2 separate regions of the Homo sapiens genome follow, and region 1 is linked to region 2. The links come from fine-mapping of genetic effects on plasma protein levels. A gene starts in region 2. The other region holds a variant in brackets. All regions are shown on one strand. Distances are from middle to middle. Region 1 overlaps SVEP1 (sushi, von Willebrand factor type A, EGF and pentraxin domain containing 1). Region 2 holds the start of SVEP1 (sushi, von Willebrand factor type A, EGF and pentraxin domain containing 1).

The links. A credible set is the group of variants that fine-mapping cannot tell apart. PIP is the posterior inclusion probability: the model's chance that the variant is causal. Protein levels are from the aptamer-based SomaScan assay of Sun 2018.
Region 1: its variant is the best candidate, but not a certain one, in a credible set for the plasma level of the SVEP1 protein (Sun 2018, PIP 0.61).

What each region holds. Positions count from the first base shown.
Region 1 is chr9:110,487,401-110,490,315 of GRCh38, forward strand. It overlaps SVEP1 (sushi, von Willebrand factor type A, EGF and pentraxin domain containing 1), which reads right to left. Exons shown (of 48, transcript NM_153366.4): 9 at 2,250-2,379. Among named protein-coding and RNA genes, the nearest start is that of SVEP1, 91 kb to the right of the region's middle. The variant G/A (reference allele first, on the strand shown) is at 1,256.
Region 2 is chr9:110,578,333-110,581,247 of GRCh38, forward strand. SVEP1 (sushi, von Willebrand factor type A, EGF and pentraxin domain containing 1) reads right to left here and starts at 1,409. Exons shown (of 48, transcript NM_153366.4): 1 at 681-1,409. The coding sequence starts at 1,211. RefSeq lists enhancers at 276-776, 777-1,277.

The sequences.
Region 1 (2,915 bases), 91 kb before region 2:
TCAGATTTTTGAGAATCCAACATATTTTTCATGCAAATGGTAAAGCTCATGTTTAAAACAACACTGAAAAAGGAATTTTTAAAAACTAAGCATTGTGAAATAGTCTGATTTTTACTGGATTTCTTTCATCTACTTTTACCAAAACCTGTAATGTATAGGGTAAGGAACCAGTTTAATATATGTTAGTTATTTCAATAAGTTATGTAACATTTTTAAAACAAAATGAATTTAACATAGTGAATTTTAAAATAAACATATGAAAAATAGACCTGAGATAAATGTTGCAAAATGTCAGTATGTTGTCATCTAGCTTTCACACAGAGCTTAAAGTATGGTAGGCACTAGATCAAGTGGTTTATATATTATCACAAATTAAAAATCTCACAATGAGGTAATACATTCATTACTTTTACTTTTGGATAAAGAAATTGAGGTATAGAGCAGGAACTGGTCCCCTTGACTTTAAGCGGTGGAGATGAACATGAACCCAACCAGCTTGGGTTCAGAGTCCATGCTCTTGTCCACTACAGATTGCTATGTAGCCTACCTCTCCATGTATTTTATTTTGGTAATGAGCAGAAGACCAATTGAGAGATGATACGGTAAACCAGGCTCAAAAGATTTCAAAGGACTGATCCGCAGCGGTGGTTCTGAGGATGGAGAGAATGGGACAAACTTCAGCGATATCAAGTAGGTGAAACCAACAGCACCTGATACCTTCTTGGATATTGGTGAGAGGGCAGGGAGTCAAGCATGATTCCAAGGTTTTCGCTTGGTAGCTAGGTGGTTGGCTGTGTCCTTTTCTGAGCTAGGAAATAATTTAGGTTTAGGTGAGTTTGAAATGCCTGTGAGACATTAATATGGGGAAAGTCCAGGAGGCTTTCAGAGTCCAGTTTGGATTCCAGAAAAGAGATTCGAACTGGAAATAGGAATATGGGAGTTGTTGGTTAACAAAATCACTCAGGAAAACTACAGAGAGAGATAGAGAAGACCAGGGCTGAAACCCTAGAGAAGATCAGCATTTGAGAATTAGCCTGAGGAAGAGAAGCCTACAAAAGAGATAAAGAAGGTTAGGTAAAAATAATGGAGGGAAAAAAAAGACGGGAAAGACTAACATCAAGGAAGCTAAGGGAAGGAAAAAGTTTTGGTAACAAGTGTGTGGTTAATAATGTAAAACGTAGCTGGGTGTGGTGGCTCACACCTATAATCCCAGCATTTTGGGAGGCCAACGTGAGAGGATCACTTGAGGCCAGGA[G/A]TTTGAGATCAGTCTGGGAACACAGTGAGACCTTGTCTCTACAAAAAAATTAAAAAAAAACAAAACAAATTAGCTGGGTGTGGTGGCACATGCCTGTAGTCCCAGCTATTTGGAAGGCTAAGGCAGGAGGATTGCTTGAGCCTAGGAATTTGAGGCTGCAGTGAGCTATGATTGTGGCACAGCACTCACTCCAGTCTGGAGGACGGAGTGAGACCCTGTCTCTGAAAAAAATTAAATAAATGTAAAATATGAGGAAAGATTATGTAAAATTAGGACCAAAAAGTATGCAGAGTAACACCAGAGATCATTGGTGACTTTGATGACAGTAGTTTATACGAGTGAAGGGGATAGAAGCCAGATTTGGGTGACTCCGAATAAATGGCAATTAAGCAGAAAGACATGGCAAGCATTGGGAACTTTCATGTGGGCTCATATGGGAAGAAATCAAAGAGAAGTGGTAATAGTTAAAGGGTTTGTAGGTTTCAAACAGGGAGTGCTTTGAGCAAGTTTCAATGCCAGTTGGAAGAATCAGTGACAAGGGAGTTGTTGATCATAAAGGAGAAGTGGTCTCTGGGGTTCTGGATTGCTTTCATAAACCTGCCCAAATGATTCAATGAAGACTTACTGTATTAGTCTGTTCTCATGCTGCTAATAAAGACATACCCGAGACTGAGTAATTTATAAAGGAAAGAGTTTTAATGGACTCACAGTTCCATATGGCTGGGGAGGCCTCACAATCACGGCAGAAAGCAAAGAAGGAGCAAAGCCACGTCTTACATGGTGGCAGGCAAGAGAGCACGTGCAGGGGAACTCCCCCTTATAAAACCATCAGATCTTCTGAGACTTATTCACTATCATGAGGACAGCATGGGAAAGACCCACCTCTATGATTCAATTACCTCCCACTGGGTCCTTCCCACGACACATGGGAATTATGGGAGCCACAGTTCAAGATGACGTTTGGATGGGGAAACAACCAAACTATATCACTTACCAATAACCTTGATATGGAAAATGCAGCTGGCCTGGTTGCCGGATAGGTCAGTTGCCGTGTATACGATAGCAACATCTCCAATTGGGAAAAGGTAAGGTGGGGTGAAAGCTGGATGAACGTGGACTGACACCTATTGGAGATACACAAATATTTTGAAAGTTAATGTCAAAAGTGCGTTTATTCTTTTCTGATTTATATATTATTAGTAATGTTAACAATGATACAATATTTCACAAAGAGGAAAGGAAAAAGGCACAGCTTTCTGGCATATTTCTTTCCAGATTATTCTATTTACATGATTTATAGAATTGGCACACATATGAAATATTTCTCCTTGTTTTTTAAACATAATACCTTCAAACATCTTTTATGCTCTTATGTAGTCCTTAAAACTTAAGATGACTCTTAAATGTTTCCATAATGTTCTGTAGAATAAATATAAGATAATTTAAGAAAAATCTGTTGAAGGACATTAGTTTGACCCAAACATTTCCATTGTAAACAGTTTTGAACAGATAATTTAAACATATTTTTTCTTCTTCTTTTCTTTACTGATGCATAATAGATGTACATAGTTTCAAGGTACATGTAATAATTTCACACATTCATATAGTTTATAAAGATCAAATCAGTGCACTTCAGATATCCATCACCTTAAATATTTAT
Region 2 (2,915 bases):
AACAGTGGCTTTTTTAAAGTGATGAAATTTTAGGGTTTTTTTTTCCTCTCCCTACTTTTTGTTTAATTCAGTCCACAAACACTGGCTTGCTATTATGTGTTAGATATTTCTATATGTTTCTTTTTCCCCCACTGAATATGGATTAATTTGTAATCAGAAAAACAGACACACTTTACAAAAGTCCGACATCCCAAACTGACTTCCTCTTCCAGATATTAAAAATCTAATAAAGGATTGGAGCAAAAATAGGAAGGGCACGAATCTTACATTGAAAGCATAACATAACTTTAAAAAGAATTGGGGTTAGGTTTATATCACTCCATGTCCTACCTTTAGAAACACTTTGTAAACCATGCTCACCTGTTTCAGCTTGGATACCGTCTGCTCCTACAAACGTGAATGTGATTAGCGTTTCAAGGATCCCTTCCTAACAGGGTCCTCGAAGCCGACTATCTAAGGAGCCTGACATCCCTCTAAGCGTTTTAAAATCCATTATCCCATTGGAACCTCCACAACAATAATAGGCGGGTAGCGATGACTCTGGTTTTGTGGATGGGGACGCTTGACTTGGGGTGGTTATGCCTTGCCCAGGACTGAACCCCGGGATAGAGACGGGCAGGCAGCGGTGGGTCGAAGGGCCCGGGGACTAGGGCCCGGGTCGGGAGGGGCGGGCGCCTTACCGCGGCTTGCTGGAAGGCGCCCTTGGTGTAGGTGCCGCCACCTCGGTAGGAGATGGCAGGGATCTCTTGGAGGAGCAGCGCGCACTTGTGCTGGCGCGCGCGGCGGGTGGAGATGTAATCGACGCGCGGCACCACGTAGTTCTTGGACGAGAAGGTCACGATGGCCACGCGCGTGGCCGTGGGCACCACGGGGAAGTCGGACAGCAGCTTGCGGACGAACATGAGCTCGCTGCGGAAGTTGACTTCGCCCACGCTGGACGAATCATCCACCAGGAAGACAAGCTCCAGGCGCTCGCTGAGCTCCCGCAGCAGCCGCACGCGTCGCCGGAACGCCTGGCCCAGCCGCTCCACTCTGCTCCCCGCCGCTTCGTCGCCAGGAGCGGGCGGCGCGGGGATACTCCCGGGGGCCCCGGGCGCGGTCTCGGGGAAGAGGCGGAAGCTGAAATTGCGCGACGGGGACATCTGCTGAAAGGTCGCCCAGCCCGAAACGAGCGCCAGACCCCAGCAACAAAAGGCCAGGCGAGGCCACATCGCGCTGGAGACAGAGCGGCTGCCCCGGAGCGCAGGCGGCGGCTCGGGCGGGAAGAGGCGCTGGGCGGCCGGACTCGCAGAGGGGCGTGCGCGGAGCTGGGCGCGGGGCAGCGGCCAAGAGCCTCAGCGCCCTTTCATCTGACACTGGGGACAGACACAATCCAGACTCCTCAGCAGCTCGGGAACTCCGGAGGGAACGGCGCGCGCTCTCTACCCCTCTCGCTCTCCTCTTTTTTTCTTCCCTCTCTCCTCCTCCTCTCTCTCCCTGAAGCCTATAAAATGTTTGAAGGAAAGGGGGCAGTCAAGAAAAATCTCCCGCTTCCCTCCTTCTCTCCCTCTCTCCCTCTCCCCGCTCCTGTCTACTTTCTGTATCTGTGACTCTATCTCCCTCCTCCCCCTCTCATTCTCCTCCCGGGATCAAGCCAAAGGCTCGGAGATTCCATGACACCAGAACCCCGCGTCTGTCAGGCTGTCAACATTCCCGCAGCAAGCGCACCAGCGCCGAAGCCCTGATTGATCCCATATGTCTGGCAGGAGCTGCAGAGGAATTCACTGGAGATGGATCCAGATACCGAGAGTGCCACAGTAATTGGAAACACTTTGTAGACGAAAACATACACGCGGACTGGCCAGGGAGTTGAAAGCATCCTTTGAAAACTGCTTGCTCACCTTTTGTGTTTCTTTTCCCCCATTCAGTGTCCCAAAGCCCTCGCCAAATAGATGATTGTACAATTTTCCTGATGGGGATTTCTAATCAGTGGTGTGTGTGAGCGTGCAGATTAAGCCCTTAAGGGCCCCCTCAGATCACACCATAAAGGAGTTGCATCTAACCTTATGCGTTCCACAGGAATGATTTGTCATGGTACTTCAGTCGTGCATTTATTCATTCATCTGTTTGTTCATTCTTTCCTGATTTTAACAAATATTTTTTGAATACCCATTGTGTGCCAGGAACTATGTGAGGCACTGCAAATATAAGGAACAAAAATTGACAGGGATTCTATCCTCAATGAACTTAAAGGGTAACAAGTGAGGTGACCATTAACCAGATATTAACATACAAAATATATGTAATTACAAGTGACCATGCTAAATAAAGGAGAGCTTAGGTAGACAGACTTGACCTTGGAGAGGCCAGAGAAGCCTTCTCTGAGGACAGAAAGTTTGTGCTGAAGTCTGAAGTGTAAGTAGGGGGTCCCCAGTCCCCTTTCATGTGTTCTTGATCTATTTCAACAGATAAGATCCACCTGGCTTTAAGTGGTACCTGGCATATATCTGCTTTGAAACAAGTTGCTACCTGGGGTGGTTTTTCCAAAGCAAGACCTCCAAAGGGGAGAGCGCACGTGTAAAGAAAAGGTGCACTTTGCATGAGGGTGGGGCCTTTGGTTAAAAGATTCCAGCTGGGAGTCAGGAACACCGTGTAGGTAAGCCTACGGTTATGTAAACCACCTGAACTGAGTCACTTCCAATCCTTGGCTCAGCATCAGTATCTATTTCATGATGGAATTCAGTGATCTCAGTTTCCTCTGTTTCTAATAGTGAATGATTTAACTCCGTCTGTATTTAACAAAATACTTTCAGTGACAAGTATCACAATGTATTGTGTAACATGTTAGGGCTCTGGCATCAGTTTTCCTGGACGAAATCATGACTCTGCCATTTATTAGTTGTACAGCCTTGACTCAGTTTGTTCATTTGTAAAAT